Regions from separate parts of the Homo sapiens genome. Here all the other regions are linked to region 3. The links come from fine-mapping of genetic effects on gene expression. A gene starts in region 3. Each other region holds a variant in brackets. All regions are shown on one strand. Distances are from middle to middle.

Region 1 (6,258 bases), 38 kb after region 3:
CTAACATGGTGAAACCCTGTCTCTACTAAAAATACAAAATTAGCCAGGCATGGTGGCGCACACTTGTAATCCCAGCTACTTGAGAAGCTGAGGCAGGAGAATTGCTTGAACTCAAGAGGCGGAGGTTGCAGTGAGCCAAGATCACGCCATAGCACTCCAACCTGGGCAACAAGAGTGAAACTCTGCCTCAAAAATCATAATAATAATAATAATAATAATACAAAAATTAGCTGGGTATGGTGGCACACACCTGTAATCTTAACTACTTGGGAGACTGAGGCATAAGAATTGCTTCAACCCAGGAGGTAGATGTTGCAATGAGCTGAGATCATGCCACTGCACTCCAGCCTGGGTGACAGAGTGAGACTCTGTCTCTAATAATAATAATAATAATAATAATAATAATAATAATAATACTTTCTTCATTTCCTTCCACCCAATCTTTCCTCTGGCTCATTAGCCTTGAACTCCTTGACTCAATCAATCCTCCCACCTCACCCTCCCAAGTAGCTGGGACTACAGGTGGGCAGCACTCCACCCAGCTTATATACCATTTTATCAACTGTGTAGATTCATGTACCCACCACCACAGTCAGGATACGGAACAATTACAGCATCACAGATTCTTCCTGTTGCCCTTTTATAACCACACCCATCTACCGCCACCCTCCCTTCCCCAATCCATGGCAACCACTTACTCTGGCCCTCCACTTCTTAAATTTTGTTATTTCAAAAAATGCTATATAAATAGGCACTTTTCAAAAGTTTTCTGCACTCAGAGTGAGAAACATATGCAGTGCTACAGTATTTCAAGAAGGGTGGAACCCTCTTGTGTTTTCTTACTCCATTTAAAGGAAAATATTTCCTTCCAGCAGAGTAAAATTGACTCACTTTCTGGGTACTTTAGTAAATTTCTACTTTAGTAATGGCAGCTGAATCCCCTTAGCAATGGTCACTGCTTCAAGTAGTAGTTTCTATGAAGGAAAACAGCCTCCCCACACCCTATATAGTTCAGACAGAACTTTGGGGCTGGAGGAAAGAAAAGTTTTTGCTTGAAATTCATGTATCAAAATCATCACACATTGATAAAGGACAGAATTCAAACCTAACATACGAAAATGGGGCTGGGCGTGGTGGCTCATGCCTGTAGTCCCAGTACTTTGAGAGGCTGAGGCAGGAAGATCCAATTAAGTCCAGGAGTTCAAGACCAGCCTGGACAACATAGGGAGACCCCATCTCTACAAAAAAATTTTTTAAAATTAGCTGAGTGTGGTGGCACAGCCTGTGGTCCTAGCTACTCGGGAGGGTGAGGTGGGAGGATGACTTGAGCCCAGGAGGTTGAGGCTGCTGTGAGCTATGATCGTGCCACTGTACTCCAGCCTGGGTGACAGAAGAAGACCCTGTCCCTCCTGCCCCCCCCAAAAAAAAAGATAAAAAGAAAAATATTTGATTTATACTCATAGTCTCATATTCCATTTCATATTCCATCTTGGAACCAAATATTTAGATTCTTTGGGGCTATCAGAGAAAATGTGCTTTCCTTTGAACATAAAGTTGCCACTAAGTAGGATCCAAGTTTATCCAAGTTCATTAGAAGATATAAGCTTGACACTGCTTTCCTGTAATGGAGAGGGATACTACACTCTCTCCTTTCCTTCTCTCATATGGCAGAATGGCAAAAGGAGTGTGTGGGAAGGTTGCCCAGGTTATGGGTCAGTAGTTCTTTTTTCATGTGTTCTCAACTGGCTTTGTTGTTCTAGGTTTCCCCTTACTACCCAGAGTGACTGGGATGTTGTCACTACATCTTGCTGGTTTCTCCCCTCTTGTTTTCTGCTTGGCCAATCCCAGCCCTTCTCCTTCCCGACTTAAATATTCAACATTCTGATTTCAACATCTTTTTCCTTCTCCTGCTGTGGAGACATCTAAAGAATTTCACCTGCTGTGTGTTTCCAACAGGCCAATTAAAATATGGAGCAGGTGGAGGGAAAGAAGAGGAATAAGAACAGCAAACAAGAAATTACCAAGTATTCAGCAAAGCAAAGAGGGGCCTCCTATTAGGTTTCAGTGAAGCCACTGAGCTGATCTTTTACAATCTTCACGGACTGTTGTCAGAGAGGAGATGAGTGAGCCAACTGAAGTGGAAAAATTGAAAAATGAAGGTAGAAAATGATCTGGAAAACTATACTCCCCAAGAAGAAAGACTTGGGCCGGGTGTGGTGGCTGACGCCTGTAATCCCAGCACTTTGGGAGGCCAAGGCGGGTGGATCACCCGAGGTCAGGAGTTCAAGACCAGCCTGGCCAACATGACGAGACCGTGTCTCTACTAAAAATACAAAAATTAGCTGGGCATGGTGGCAGGCGCTTGTAATCCCAGCTACTCGGGAGGCTGAGGCAGGAGAATGGTGTGAACCCGGGAGGCGGAGCTTGCAGTGAGCCGAGATCGCGCCACTGCACTCCAGCCTGGGCGACAGAGCTAGACTCCGTCTCAAAAAAAAAAAAACAAAAAAACAGAAGAAAGACTTTAAGTATCCTAAAGTCCAAAGGATTAATGGTCCTTACTACTACTGTGGGTTGCATTCTATTTTAAAGACAACTGGTATCAGTGGATAAATAATGTAGTAGTAACTTGAGAACATGGAAAACCTACCTGAGTTGTGTCATTTCAAATACCTATTAAAGAGTTGAGTAGAGGATGCAAGTATGAGAGACTCGCTGCAGTATGTAATTATGCACTTTGAAAGCTTGGTTCATCCATGGCTCTCAAAGCACATTACCAACTTTAATTGTTTTTTGTAACACCTCTGTAAGACCATTATTCCCTACAGACAGATGAAGAAATGGAGACAGAAAGGTTACCAGGCGCCTTCAGTCACCATGAATCATCTGTGGAGTTGCTCCTATTCCAGATTGATTTGTCATTTGAGTTAATTGACCATTTCCAAATGAAGACAGACTGCTTGAGCAGTGCTTTGAGTAAATTTTGGCTTCTAATTTTTGTTTGTTTGTTTGGAAGCAAGGGACGCTAGATTCATTTTAAGCTGTAATCTGTTTGAAGAGTTACTATTCAATAAAATGTACATGGAAACATATTAAAATATGCAAGACATATGCCAGCACACACATATAAGTTTATAACATAATAGACCAAGTGGGTCCTTTTGTCCTCCATCATTCACCTTGCACAGAAAACAAAACAAAACAAAATGACAAATGTATCATATACGATCATACAGCTTTAGGATCTGGAACAACCTCAGATCTTTTTTTTTTTTTTTTTTTTTTGTGAGACAGAGTCTCACTCTGTCACCCAGGCTGGAGTGCACTGGTTGCCCACTGCAACCTCCACCTCCTGGGCTCAAGCAGTTCTCCTGTCTCAGCCTCCCTAGTAGCTGGGAACACAGGTGCGCACCACCATGCCCAGCTAATTTTTGTATTTTTAGTAGAGATGGGGTTTCACCATACTGGTCAGGCTGGTCTTAAACTCCAGACCTCAGGTGATCCACCCACCTCGGCCTCCCAAAGTGCTGGGATTATAGACGTGAGCCACTGCACCTGGTCAATCTCAGATCTTTTAGCTTTTGTGACACTCCTTTCAGAAAACCTACTCCAATTATTGGGCCACACCTCATTTGTCCTTCTGTGTTCCTGTTGTAATGATAGTCTATTACACACAATCTA[T/G]CGCTGTATCACACTGTACTTATACTCTTTTGTTCTTTTGATTTTTTTGGGTTAAACAACACAACAGTTATCAATGCCCCTGTATTGTATTTGGAATCAGGGAATAGCTTGTGAATGATGTATGTAAGTCTCTTTCTGCCAACGAGACTATAAACCCCAGGAGGGCTGAGTTTGAGTCTTGTTTTCTTATATCCTTCTTCCCAGAATTTCTGGGTACACATCAAACACTTAACACACAGTGTTAGTTTGATTTAATAGGATTGAGAGACGGTGGTGAGGGTAACAGTGAAGTGAAATGGGTTCTATTAAACTCATTAATCAAGGTGGCTGAATTTAAATATATATTTCAGGTGGCCGGGCGCGGTGGCTCACGCCTGTAATCCCAGCACTTTGGGAGGCCGAGGCAGGCGGATCACGAGGTCAGGAGAACAAGACCATCCTGGCTAACACGGTGAAACCTCGTCTCTACTAAAAATACAAAAAAAATCAGCCGAACATGGTGGCGGGTGCCTGTAGTCCCGGCTACTTGGGAGGCTGGGGCAGGAGAATGGCTTGAACCCGGGAGGCAGAGTTTGCAGTGACCCAAGATCATGCCACTGCACTCCAGCCTGGGCGACAGAGTGAGACTCCATCTCAAAAAAGTAAAATAAAATAAAATAAAATAAAATAAAATAAAATAAAATAAAATAAAATAAATATATATTTCAGGCCGGGCATGGTGGCTCATGCCTGTAATCCCAGCACTTTGGGAGGCCAAGGCAGGTGGATCACAAGGTCAGGAGTTGGAGACTGGCCTGACCAACATGGAGAAACCCTGTCTTTACTAAAAATACAAAAGTTTGCTGGGCGTGGTAGCACACGCCTGTAATCCCAGCTACCGGAGAGGCTGAGGCAGGAGAATCGCTTGAATCCGGGAGGCGGAGGTTGCAGCGAGCCGAGATCGCCCACTGCACTCCAGCCTGGGCGACAGAGTAAAACTCCATCTCAAAAAATAAAAAAAAGGGCCAGGCGCGGTGGCTTACGCCTGTAATCTCAGCACTTTGGGAGACCAAGGCGGGCGGATCACGAGGTCAAGAGATCGAGACCATCCTGGCCAACATGGTGAAACCCCGTCTCTACTAAAAATACAAAAATTAGCTGGGCATGGTGGTGCTCGCCTGTAGTTCCAGCTACTCGGGAGGCTGAGGCAGGAGAATCACTTGAACCCGGGCGGCAGAGGTTGCAGTGAGCAGAGATCAGCCACTGCACTCTAGCCTGGGGACAGAGTGAGACTCTGTCTCAAAAAAAAAGAAAAAGAAATACAAAAATTAGGCAGGCATGCTGGCACACCTGTAGTCCCAGCTACTCAGGAGGCTGAAGTGGGAGTTTCCCTTGAGCCTGGGAGACAGAGGTTGCAGTGAGCTGGAATTGTACCACTGCACTCTAGCCTGGGCAACAGAGCAAGACTCTGTCTCAAAAAAAAAAAAGAAAAAAAGAAAGGAGGCCGGACGCAGTGGCTCACGCCTGTAATCCTAGCACTTTGGGAGGCTGAGGCGGGTGGATAACCTGACGTCAGGAGTTCGAGACCAGCCTGACCAACATGGAGAAACCCCGTTTCTACTAAAAATACAAAAATTAGCCGGCGAGGCTGAGGCAGGAGTATCACTTGAACCCAGGAGACAGAGGTTGCGGTGAGCCAAGAACACGCCATTGCACTCCAGCCTGGGCAACAAGAGCAAAACTCTGTCTCAAAGAAAAAAGAAAAGAAAAGAAAAGAAAAATTTGTAAAAACATCAGTATTGATCCAAATTGTATTGTACTTGTCAATGCACAGTTTTTGGATGGGGAGGTCTTCCCACTCCATTTATTTATTCATTTGTTCATTCATTCCTTCACTCATATATTTAGGTACTGAGCAAAAATTAACTCAGTGCCTACTAATGGACTAGATAGTGTGCTAGTCATGATAACATAGGGACTAGGGAGACATGGTTCCTGACTTCCAAGGTTTGCCTTGGCAGTGTAGTGAAAAGTTATCTTTCCCATTTCCAAATTCCTGAGATCAGAAATGTAGTTAAACTATTTTTTTTTTAAGAATTACTTTAATTTTTCAATTCAAGTTGAATAGATTTGGTTTTGTGGTTTGGTATCATATGGCCAGCCAGGTCTTGCCATCCAAAAAGGAGCTTAGATTTAGACGTATATACATCAGACAGTGAGGCAGCCAATTTAGCTAAATGATGCCAAAAATTAGCTAGAAACAGCTTTGTTGCCTATAAGAACAGCTTGACTGGTGATTCACCATATGATTTAGGTGAGTCATATAACCTCTATGTCTGGGGTTTCTCAGCTGTAAATTACAGAGATGCTAGGAATATAATGAATAAGAAACACAATGGCATAGTGCAAGAGTACCAGACCAGAAGTCAGAGTTATTTTTATGGCTTTGCTTCTACCTATCTGTATGACCCTGGGCAAGTCACCTAACCTTTCAGTGGCCATTTCATTAACTGCAGAATTATAATAAACTGCTCACTTTAGAGAGATGTTACAAAACAAAGCAGGTAAAGTGCTTTGAAAATTATAGTTTCAGGTTGGGAG
Region 2 (6,258 bases), 49 kb before region 3:
TAAGCACAATATATTATTGCCATCTAAACCATTTCACACTGGGCATCACTGGCTCACTGGCAAATTTCAAAAAAAGGCAGATTTCATAGAAGAGTAGATGAACACAGGATAATCCTGCTTGATGTTGGGGGAAATCTAAATTTTCATTTCACATACTCTCAATAGATTACATCACAAGTTTTCACATTTATTTACTCAAGGTAGTAAAAAGTATCTCAATGAATTACTGAATTTTTATTAATAATTTGCATGATAATGAAGATAGAACTGTAGCCAAAAAACAATTCAGTAGATTAAAAACAATAAAACCAATGTGAAAAATAAACCACTTTATAGAGAATGAAAAATTTTAACCCAAAATTTAAAAATGTGGTGACTATTAATATGTAATGCCTCTTTTTTCATTTTAGCATGACTATATAAGAACACATATATGTCACATGTCCAATTTTTTTGTTCCTTTCACTTCTGATTAGCTGACCTTATTAAAATATTTAGCATTACCAGCCACTTGATATTACCCACTAACCTTTTAGCTAACAACCACAGTACACAATTCATAGGCTTGAATTATATGCATATTCAAGTTCAGAAATCAAATATGCTTTCATAATTCAGTTTGTCAACACACTATAGTACTTCCCAATTCGTATTTCAGATCTAAGAGTTTGATTCTTCACTTGGTAATTCCACACAGTGGTAACAACAGGAGACACATATGTGGTACTCTAAAATTCTTTTAATTCTCTCTAATCTTAAACATTCCTAGACAAAGAGTAAGGCATGCAAATTACATTTTAAAAATTAAATTCAAGCCAGAAAAAGACACTATAAGAAAACTACAGACCAATATCCCTGATGAATATTGATGCGAAAATTCCTAACAAAATACTAGCAAACCAGAATTCATCATTTAAAACATTTAAAATATTATACACCATGACCAAGTGAGATTTATTGCTGAAATGCAAGACTGTTTCAACATACAAAAATCAATCAATGTAACACAGGACATCAACAGAATGAAGGACAAAAACCACATGATCATCTCAGTTGATGCAGGAAAAGCATTTGACAAGATTCAACACCCTTTCACTATAAAAAACACTCAAGTTAAAACTAGAAAAAAATCACCTGCTATGGTTTGAATATTTGTCCCCTCAAAAACTCGTGGAAATTTAATCCCCAATGTGGCAGTACTGAGAAGTGGGGTCTTTAATAGGAGATTGGGTAAGGAGGGCTCTGCCATCATGAATAGGTTAATCCATTCATGGATTACTGGATTAATGATTTAATAGTTATGAGAGTGGGACAGGTGGCTTTAGAAGAGAAAGAGACCTGAGCAAGCACCCTCAGTCCCATTGCCATGTGATGCCTTGCAACACCTAGGAACTGTGCAGAGTTCCCACTAGCAAGAAGACTCTCATCAGATGTGGACCCTCAAAACTTGGACTTCTCAGCCTCCTTAACTGTAAGAAATAAATTCTTTTTCTTTATAAAGTACCTAATTTCAGATATTCTGTTGTAAGGAACAGAAAATGGACTAAGACGCTATCTCTACATAGTAAAAGTCAAAAACTCATAGCTAATATTATACTCAAGGGTAAAAGACTGAAAGTTTTTACTCTAACATACAGAACAAGGCAAGGATGCCCACTCCCACTACGTGTCTATTCAACATAGTATTGGAAGGCCTAGCCAAAGCAATTAGGCAGGAAAAGTAACAAATAAAAGGCATCCAAGTTAGAAAGAAAGAAAGAAGTAAAATTATCTCTGTTCCCAGATGACACAATCTTATATGTAGAAAATCCCAAAGTTTACACACACATAAAAACTCTTAGAACTAATAACCACAAATTCAATAAAGTCGCAGGATATTAAATCAACACACAAAATTCTTGTATATACTAACAATCCAAAAAGGAAATTAAGAAAACAATTCCATTTACAACAGCATCAAAAACTGTAAAATACTAAACCTAACCAAGCACGTAGAAGACTTGTACACTGAAAACTACAAAATACTGCTGAAATGAAAGATGACACAAATAGAAAGGCATCCTGTGTTCATGAATTCGAAGACTTAATATTATCATGAAGTCCATACTACCCAAAGAAATCTACAGATTCAACACAATCCCTATCAAAATTCCAATAGCACTTTTTGCAAAAATGAAAAAAATTAAGCTGAAAATTCATATAGAATCTCAAGGGACCCCAAAAAGCCCAAACAATTTTAGGAAGAAAAGAACAAAGTTGGAGGACTCACACTTCCTAATTTCAAAGCATTTTAGAGAAAGTCCTCAATATCACCAACAGGTTCTTGGAAACTCCAATGTTAAGCAAAATGACGTATAATGAATGAAACCAATTTTTTTCCTCATCAACATTATAACAAAACAACACTGAACAAATTGATATTGTTCAAAGATCTGCTGTACACCGCTTTGCTTAAAGCCCAAGTTTCCAAGAACCTAAGAACGGCACTAAGTGAGAACTTACTGTACAAAGCTACAGTAATCAAAACTGTGAGGTACTGGCATAAAGACAAATAGACCAGTGGAATAGAACAGATATGGATAAACAAAATGTAGTAGATACATAAAATGAGTTACACACCTTTTAAAAGGAAGGAACATCTGTACTACATTACAACACGGATGGACCCTAAGGGCATTATGCTAACTGAAATAAGCTAGTCACAAAAAAGACAAATACCATATGATTCAACTTATGAGGTATCTGAAGTAGTCAAATTCATAGAAACAGAAAGTAGAATGGTTACCAGGGACTAGGGGAAGAGAAAAACGGGAGTTGTTGTTTAATAGGTATAGAGTTTCTGGCTTTCAAGATGAAAAATTTCTGTAGATCTGTTTCACAGCAGTTGGATATATTTAACGTTACTCAATTATACACTTAAAAAATGGTTAAATGGTAAATGTTGTTGTTTACCACAATAAAAAATTAAATTTGAAACCTCTTTTATCAAGCAAGCTTCTCTCATATGGTATAAACTCACAGGATTTTACTTAAATCATCGATCATTTAAGAACACCTTTCTACTAAACAAGCATACCACATACCATATAACTACTGATCTATTGAGATGTCATTTTGTAAATTAAGACACTAATCATTGATATCTACACTCAGAATATTTTGAGACTTTTTGTCTCCCGTTTAATAAGGTAAAATGCACCAAAGCTTATGTTAAATTTACAGCAAAATATCAAAAGAAATAATCTAACTTTTCCAAAAAAACATGGAAACACTTGAACAACCAGAGCTAACCTTACATTTAAGTTGCTCACCATAGAGTATGAAAACTGTCATTGAAACCTATTTAACAAATGTTAAACATTTATTTCCCTTGTTCAAAATATGACAGTACAAGTCAAGTCCCATAGTTACCCACAAGAGCACACAACTTAAAGCCAGGGTAAAAAGCAGCAACAATCTTCCAGCAGCAACGCAAACTAACTGCATCCAACGGTTAGCATACTAAATGGCCTCATGTGATGATACTAAGATTTAGGAATTACCCTAAAATGCAACACTTGATTCCATTAAACTCGAGAGGAAGCATACAGCATGAAAAAGATCCAGTAAGAAGAGATATCTATCTATCTATCTATCTATCTATCTA[TCTACCTACCTAC/C]CTACCTACCTACCTACCTACCTACCTACCTACCTACCTACCTGGTTAGATTACTGGTACCAGATATCATTAGGGGACTCTCACATTTTGCCCTGTAACCAAGCAAATTTCATATACTTTAGCATGCCATCCAAACAGACCAACTCAATCTGAGCTCTAAGATGACTGAAGTTTTTAAACCTTCCCTAGAACTATGACCAAAAGACTGCCTTATTTCTAAACAACAACAAATACATTAAAGCATCCTGCAAAATCAATATCCCCAAAAGAACTATCGAGATGCTAAGAAAGGAGGCGAAATAATGACTCAACATATATTTAATATTAAGAGCAATATATTATTAAAAACAAATATATATTAGAGCTAACGTTTTTGTTTTGGATAGACTTGAAAGTACACTCTACTACAGAGAACTTGAAACTATCTTAGATTCATAGTTATTGCAACTTTGCTGTTATGACACAGTTTGTTGTAACAATGGTTTATTTGTTAAGTCATTAGTCAGGAAAGAAACTTCTCAATTAGAAAACTCTTTCAAAAAAAAATGTGTTATAATTATCCTCCTGGCAAAAAGTTATCTGCCAAATAACGTAGCAACACTGAGAACAACATGATTGAGAAGATTATTCATATGCAAGGATCTCCATCTTATTCTATGATTATTATTTTGGCAAAAATACTCAAAATGATCTTTTCATCATGAAACACAATCTCCCTCTCCCTCTGTCTCCCTCCACCCACCATAAATGACTGTGCTTAGCTATCCTGATTAATAAATTAATTGCAACTAGCAGCTGGGCATGGTGGCTCATGCCCCTAATCCAGCACTTTAGGAGACTGAGGCAGGAGGATTACTTGAGCCCAAGCGTTTGAAACTAGCCTGGGCAACACAGCGAGACTGTCTCTAAAAAATTAATAATAGGGCTGGGCACGGTGGCTCACGCCTGTAATCCCAGCACTTTGGGAGGCTGAGGCAGGCGGATCACCTGAGGTCGGGAGTTTGAGACCAGCCTGACCAACATGGTGAAACCCTGTCTCTACTAAAATACAAAAATTAGCCAGGCGTGGTGGCGCATGCCTGTAATCCCAGCAACTCAGGAGGCTGAGGCAGGAGAATCGCTTGAACCTGGGAAGCGGAGGTTGCAGTGAGCCGAGATCGCACCATTGCACTCTAGCCTGGGCAACAAGAGTGAAACTCCATCTCAAAAAAAAAAAAAAAGAAAGAAAATTAATAATAATAATAAATTGCAACTAGGAAAGGGAAAAACTTTTCTCCTCCAACTTCTACATATAATCTATTCTGAAGATGTTTGCCAAATATGCCATTATCATGTCATTTTACTTGAATGTTTTACTTCATTATGTCCCCTTTCACAGGTTAGTCCTATGTCACCTACTTTGGCTAACCATAATTTACAAAGTATTCAACTGCATTTCACCTGTCTGTTTTTCTGCCCAAAGTCATAAAGCAACAAGCAGTTTTTCCAGTGTTACATACTTGAACTTAGTTACTAGTGAACCTACTATCTCATGTTGATCATAACTCATAGATCACAAAATAATGTGGAAGTCAGTGTAGCAGATTCAACTCTCACAACATAAAAAACAGCATTAACACAACTCTGAAAGTCTTCTGTTAGGTCTGCTACTTAATATTTAAGTTTACATCAAATTATGTAATATAATGTAAAATGTGATGCCTTTCACAAAGTAAGAACATGTATATGAATGGATGTATTTGTTTGCACAAAAAAATACTGAGAGGATTAACAAGAAACACTTTTTCCAAGTTGTAAGGAGGAAGGGATGATAAAAGAAATATACGAGACAGGAATCTGTGGAAGACTTCTATATATACCTTTGCATATAATTTTAACTTTTGAATAAGGAAAATGTCATACTCATTCAAATGAAACTGAATTTTGTTAGGTTATGTCACTGTCATAGAAACAGAAATTTCTGAAATTAAAGACAAATTGGAAAAAAAAACCTAATCATGTACATCAAATCAATAACACAGACATACAGAGAAAGTATTCATATAAAGTGAGGTCAGAACACAACACTTTGCTTATCCTTAGTGGGAAGAATTTTAAGGACAAAAAGAAGAAAATTTAAAGCAGGATGGGATGGCTCACACTTGTAATCCCAGCACTTTGGGAGGCCAAGGTGGGGGGATCGCTTGAGGCCAGGGGTTTGAGACCAGCCTGGTCAACACAGCGAGACCTGTTCTCTACAAAAAAGGAGAGGGAGGGAGAGGGAGGAAAGCGGGGAAGGGAGAGGGGGAAAGGGTGGAGGGGGAGGGAAGAAAGAGAGAGAGAGAGAGAGATCGCTTGAGCCCAGGAGTACGAGGCTGCAGTGAGCTGTGATTAGGTCACTGCACTGCAGCCTAGGTGACAGAGCAAGACTATGTCTCTATTTTTAAAAAAAAGAAGGAAAGAAAATTAAACTTCATACAATACTTCTGTTGTCTGCTACACTAATTCTGTTTTTCTGAAGTTATTTTCTTTATACTATAGGAGAAGGCAAGCAATCTTGTTAATGACCCTAAGAATCAAGATATTAAGTATAAAAGAGATAATTAGCAAACAAACTTTTA
Region 3 (6,258 bases):
GAAATAGACACTAAGCAGAATTTACAAAAATTGCAAATGGAATTTTCCTGTTTTCAAAGAATTAAAAAGGAAACTAAAAGTAGAGCACATTCAGGCTAAGTTATAAACATTTAAAGTTCAACCAATTTATAAGTATTTATGTTGCCTGTTTTATACTAGTTCCCGTTTAAACGTTTTTTTTTTTTTGAAAGTTTTGCCAAGCATTGTGTAATCACTTACACAAGGCTAAATTTCCTATGCAAGTAATTTTGACATGTAAATATAAACTTAAGTCATTACCCCCAAGACTGTAAGACAATCTGGAAATTCTACTGCAAAAAAAGTTTATCTTAAACTATGGAAATGTTTAACAGCACGCACAAAAGTAGAGAGAATAATAGTAACAATGAGCGCTTCTGTATTCATCCAGCTACAATAATCAACTCAAGGCCACTTCTGCTTCACACCTACCTCCTACCCACTCCCTCCTCTCATTATTATCTTCAAAAAGAATTAAGAGGAAGATACTATGTTCTCTAAGTACACTTCTACCCAAAGATAGCAAAAGTATCAAAAACTAGCATGTTAAGTCAAAATCCAACAATGTAACTATACAGCCGCCTTACGCCTTACACAATTCTTTGGTAGGTGATAAATTTAAGAATTCAGTTAAACACAAAGATATAACCATCTTTAAGAATTTTAATGAAGTCCATAAACCCAAAGGGCATATTTAAAATTATACCTAAAAAGACAAATAGGGAAATGTGATGAAAACGAACTTAAACATCTGCAATTAACTTACTTAACGTGGCACCTTAGTTCAAAATGAAAAAAAAAAATCGACTATTTAACATAATGTGTCATAAAACTGCAATTCAACCACTTGAAAAACTGCTGAACACTTATATACCTTAAACTGGTCCTTCTGATCCCTAATTATAGATTGATATCAATGTAGAAAGAAAACCAGGCATTTTAACGTTAAGTGGTTGAAAATGTTGAAAATTAACCCCACTGTTCATCGGAAAGTATATGAGAGCAAGCCTAAACTACCTGAATTATATGTCATTAAACAAATGCATCCACTTCCCAGAGCCTTTTTTTTAACAAAATAAGTTCAGATATACCCTTAAACGCAACGCGCTAGGCTACAGACAGAATTAGGAGACCGCCTCCTGCTTTTGCTCCTAACCAATACGCAGAGAGAGAAGGTTGGCAGAAAAGTGCTGCGAGGACAGTAACAAACACCAGCAGCTCCCGAGCAGGCCCTGCTAGAGCCAGGAATGACGCACTTCGGTAACCCGACTCTTTCTCCCCTCCACCCCCGCCCCCAGCAGCGGTGCTGACACCGCCAACAGCCCGGAGTAGGAAAAAAGACAACAGAAAAAAAGGCAGAGGTTGGACCGCACTAGGTTTCATCAAGAAACCTCGATGATTCCTCTTTCGACACTAACCACTAGGACTAAACAGGAAAAGAAGCTTCGTGCTTAAGCAAGTCCCATCATGGTGGTTTAAGAGTCACTAAATTAAGCTGATAATGAGTCCAATCCACAGAGACAAATACAGGGTGTGGCTGCTGCGAAATACGGCGGTCCGTGGGAGAAAAGGGGTATGGAATTTACACTCCAGTGTGAAGGGAAGATGGGGCTTTATGGTGGGAGAAGGGGGTGGCCCGCGCATTTTAAGGAACCATTGCAAACCAACACAAGCGCCTCGTTTACTTTAAATCTAACCTTACAGATCAAAAGTTTCCAATAGATATATCATGTAAACTGTAAATTACCATTTAATCCAACACCATGGCCCTCAATTTAAAAACTACATCCAAGAGAAAGAAGGAGGGAGAGGGAAGAGGGGTGGTAGGCAACAACATAAAAAACATTCTAGGCCACGGAAGAGAAAGTCTCACAAACCGGATGAAACTACTAATACAATATTAAAAATTAAAGCCGAGCACTGAAGCACGAAAATCACACGATAACCCATTACAGTTAAGGATTAAAAATAAAATGACATATGCACCAAGGGGGAGCGGAAACTAAATGTCGAAAGTACAGCGGTTTATAAAAAACTAAAGGCAAAACAAGACATTCTCGCGACGGGGGGAAAAAAAGGCCGAAATCAACAATACGTTCACAATTCTAGGCCAAAAGAAAATGGGAACGGGGCTCAAAGTTTTGCGGAACTACTTGATGCTGTTTCCCACACCTTCTCTCTCCCACGGCCCATCCGACCCTTTTCGTCCCAAAATCGCCGTCCGCAGATCTCCGGATCCAGGGGAGAAGAAAAAAGAAAGTCGACCCCGAGCAAGAATAAAAGTGTGGAGTGAAAACGCACAGGCTGCCTACCTGGGGCAAGGATCAGCTCAGTTCGTGCCTTGAGAAAGACAGTGCGGGTGGGGGTGGGAATGAAAAGCAGCACTAAAACTAAAACAAAAGTGGCGCCAAAACCCCCCAACAAACAGCCTTCCACTCCCGCCCTTCCCCCCTCCGCCCATGCCAGGCAGGCAGGGCCCCCTTCGGGGCAAGGTCTGCGCGCGGGGGCCAACACCGCCAGACCCCAGCCAATTTAGAAAATTGTTGCCCGAAGAAAACTGACCGAAGTCGGGCCTCGGAAGGGATGGAGAGATCGATGCCAATCGCCTTCCCCAGCAGTTCCCCCACCACGCGCTGGAGATGATGGGGCGGGGGAGAAGCAGAGGGGCCCGTCACATGAATGTTGTTCCCTCTCTAGGAAGGGAGGAAGAGAGGGAGGGAGGGGGGAGGGAGGGAAGGGAGGAGGGGAAGGGAGAAGGGAGGGGGCACGAGGGAGGGGTGTGATCAGAGTAGATTTTCCCTCGCCTCCCTCGGTCCGAGGCCCAAATATACACAACTGAGCCTCCTTTCTCCCCTCCCCCCTAGGTTCCCAGCACCACCATTTTGCTCTCTGCCTTCCCCTCACCGCGACACCGCGCTCTCCCCCACCCCAACCACAGCCTCCCGGCTTTCCTCCCCCGACTACGGCTCGCACCCCACCCCACCTCCAGTTCGGGCTCTCCTAGGCTTAGGAGCCTGCCGGAGAAAAGGAACCTAAATCTACTGCTACACAGAGAAGCGGAGCCTCCATCTTGCGCTGCTCCGCGTTCTCCATTTTGGGCCACCCATGGGGGGGGGGGGTCTCCGTAGAGGCCCCGAGGGAGAGTTGGGCGAGGGAAGGAAGAGAAAATCTTCAGCGAGGGTAGTCGAAAAGAAGAGCCCTGCGGTAGAAAGCCACTCTAGGAGTAGGAGGTAGGGAGGAAGGGGGGCTGGAAGTTCCTTGGAAGTGTTGGGGTAGCGACTTGGGGGGAGAAGGGAGAAAGGAGGGCGGGGGGCGCCGCGGGGGCGAGAAAGATCCTCCCGCCTGGACTCTGCCCCCCGTTCCATGGCTGCCCCCCATGGGGGCGAAGAAAGCAGAGGGGAAATTCAATGGCAACAGAGTGCCCAACCTCTTTCCCTCCCAACTCCTCTCTCTCGCCCTGTTTCAATCATACACACCTCACGGTGGGCCAAGCGCCCTCCGGGTGCCCCTCCAAACTTCTAGAAGCTTCGCCTCCGCCATTTTATAACTTACCTCCCCCCTCAGCGTACACAGAGGCAGCAACGAGACTGTTCGCCTCCCCCACTCCTCCTTCTTTCTCAGGCCGGGGGCTTCTTCACCCCTGGGCTGGTACAAGATATTTTTCCCCTTCCTCTTCTTTACACCCTCGAATTCTACTCAGGGACGGAAGCTCCCGCGGTTCTAGAGCGGTGGGGGGTTTTGAAAGTGGCGGTCGGATCCGGCGGGGTTTTTTTTCTTTTTTTTTTTTTTTTTTTTTTTTTTTTTTTTTTTTTTTTTGGTGGCGCTTCGGGATTGTTTGGGGTGTTCGCTCTTCGGCGACTTGGAGGCGAATGGAACGCGCAGGCGCCATCTGTCGGCCACGAACCCGCGCCCGGCTCCCGTTGGGAGGGAGCGGCATCTAGCGGCAGAGAGTTGCCACTGCAACGCCTGGCTCCCAGCCCTCCCACCCAGCGTCCTCCTCCCAGTCACCGACCAATCGTGGCCGACTGACTCCCGGGTTCAGCGTCTCCGACGCCGCCCGCAAACCAGGCGCCCGCAGGGGCGCGCCGCCGAGTGGGGTAAACAAGGTGCCGTGCCCGCGCCTGACTTACTCATTCGTTTGGCCGCGCTTCCGCCGCGGACCCGATCGAGCCGCGGTTCTTCTGTCTTTAGTGGGGTGTCGAGGGGAGGGCGGTAGGAATGTCCGGCGGAGCCCTGGGCCGTGGGAATCCAGAGGCTGGCTGGGTTCGCTCCGGGACTCGTTCCCCGGGCCCCTCCGCCCCTCGCGAGGCGCTAAGGTGGCAGCCCAGTCGGGCATCACCCTTCGAAGTCCCCTCTTCTGACACACCCCTGTGAGGGGCCTGTGGCCCTAGTTCCCGTACCTTCGATGCCCCCTTGTCCCTACCCCTTCCCACCAAAAGAACCCAAGTCGCTTAACTCTGGCACCTGATCCTAAATGGTTTAATGGAGCTACTTGGGCTAGATCGGGGGCGGAATACGGGTTGGTTTTGTTTTGCTTTTTGCTTCGGGTGTGGAGAGAGAGCGAGCTGATTCTCTACCAGTAAGACCTAGCCCTGGAAAAGAAAGAAAAATTGTTTTGCTTTACAGCCCACTGGTCCCGTCTCCGAGAAAACGTGGTCTGTATCTCCAGGTTCTAGGAGTCCTAAAGAACTGGACTACTAGGCTAGGCCGGGCGCTCGACCAATTTGTTCGCCACTCTCGGGGCGGGGGAAGAGATAGGACCGAGCGAAGTGGAGGGAAATCGAAATTTGGGCAAAAGGAGTGGAGGGGGACCTACCCCGCCTCCCCCGCGCATCCACTGCCTTCCTGGGCGGGTGCAACCACGCGAAATGGTTGGGAATTTAGGTTACTTCGCATCCTGCCTTCCCATCCCTCCCCCAAGATGTTTGAAGTGCGAAAAGACCCTTTCTGCTCCTCCGACCCCTGTTAACTAAAATCTTTGTCACCCTTTTTTTTTGTTTGTTTCGAATCCAGTGTATTGGACCTTTGACCGCCAAGAGCTCTTTACTCGGGGGAGAAAAACTCGAGGAGGGCCTATCCCCTCCAAAGCGCCGCTTTTTCCTTGGACAGGAAGAAGTGACCTATTGCAGTGTCTCCATTGCTGTTATAGAAGTTCGTAGATTCATAAAATAGTGTTTGCTTAAGAAGTCTTCGTTTCTGTTCCATTTTTGAAATTTTGGTTAAAATATTTCTTAAATATTAAATTACATTTCAATTAGAAGAAAAGAAATAAAACGTATTAATAACAAAACAAATTTTCCAACTGAGAAATAGGGTGAGCCCCGTGTAAATCATGAAGCTTTCACCCCGATATCACTTCTGAAACATTCCTAATGTAATATAACGATTATTTTCAGTCCTTAAATTATATTCCTTCCATATCTCTTGTTAGTTTCTCTCCCATCCTCTGTGCTTATTGTTTTTTCTGCAACTTTACAAAAAGAGTTATAGTATATTTAATCAACTGGACAATAAAAGTTAAACAGAAACATCTGAATATCAATAACAAGAAGTAAAATCTGAGACATTTTTACTTACCTCTAAAGCTCTGGAGAGTGGAATACTATTCAAAATAAATTTCCATTTCTTTTATAGACCATCTTTGGTAGAATGCTATACAGTTTTTAATAGATTCAAGTTACAGAATGATGCAGCTAGAACATTAAATAGAGAGTAGTGGAAAATTTACAGAGTTATATAAGTTAATGCAAAATTCCACTTGAAGTAATAGAAAAATTGGGCCGTGTACCAAGTCATTTTTACATTAATTTAGTTCAATTGTGCCAATTTAATCTCAATTGATATTAAATGATTTCCTGTCTTAGTATTAGCTGAAAACTACTGATTTTCTGCTCCAAACATCACATTTATGGTACATGGTACAAATAGTTTTTTATCTATTTTATAAATTTGTATTCTCAGTTAATTATCTATGTAGCAACTGAGATTTTAAACAATTTTATGCTTAGAACAAAACTGAAAAGTTCTTCTGTTTAGCAAATTAGCTCTGATTTTGTGAAAAATACCACTGAAGATTAATAACAAACTGGTATAACATCAGAAATAAATGTTGTAGCAAATTTTTACTAATATTTAAGAATATTTTACAGTAACCATTTTTTTTGTTAGAGCTCTTTCAAAAAAATACTTATCAAGACTTCAATATGTACAGAATGCTAGGTGCCCCAGTCCTATCATAAG

Alleles and levels. Positions count from the first base shown, and alleles are read on the strand shown. Sizes are in standard deviations (SD) of each study's normalised expression.
For the expression in gastroesophageal junction of the gene that starts at base 3,096 in region 3, G is the high allele of the variant in region 1 and T is the other (small effect, 0.27 SD a copy in GTEx).
In carriers of allele C in region 2, the expression in subcutaneous fat of the gene that starts at base 3,096 in region 3 tends to be higher than with TCTACCTACCTAC alone (moderate effect, 0.57 SD a copy in FUSION).

Evidence for each region. PIP is the estimated chance that this variant, and not a neighbour inherited with it, causes the effect. A credible set is the group of variants that fine-mapping cannot tell apart.
Region 1: its variant is the best candidate, but not a certain one, in a credible set for the expression of STAG2-AS1 in gastroesophageal junction (GTEx, PIP 0.69).
Region 2: its variant is the best candidate, but not a certain one, in a credible set for the expression of STAG2-AS1 in subcutaneous fat (FUSION, PIP 0.78).

The regions. Positions count from the first base shown.
Region 1 is chrX:123,919,971-123,926,228 of GRCh38, reverse strand. No RefSeq gene overlaps it. Among named protein-coding and RNA genes, the nearest start is that of STAG2-AS1, 38 kb to the left of the region's middle. RefSeq lists an enhancer at 1,659-2,160. The variant T/G (reference allele first, on the strand shown) is at 3,679.
Region 2 is chrX:124,006,836-124,013,093 of GRCh38, reverse strand. The region is part of intron 1 of STAG2 (STAG2 cohesin complex component); the gene reads right to left. Among named protein-coding and RNA genes, the nearest start is that of STAG2, 48 kb to the right of the region's middle. The variant TCTACCTACCTAC/C (reference allele first, on the strand shown) is at 3,647.
Region 3 is chrX:123,958,179-123,964,436 of GRCh38, reverse strand. STAG2-AS1 (STAG2 antisense RNA 1) reads left to right here and starts at 3,096. Exons shown (of 2, transcript NR_130770.1): 1 at 3,096-3,248; 2 at 5,032-5,204. STAG2 (STAG2 cohesin complex component) reads right to left here and starts at 2,731. Exons shown (of 35, transcript NM_001042750.2): 1 at 2,581-2,731. RefSeq lists enhancers at 1,224-1,483, 1,574-1,673, 3,102-3,151, 4,132-4,321, 3,850-4,765 and a silencer at 2,642-2,781.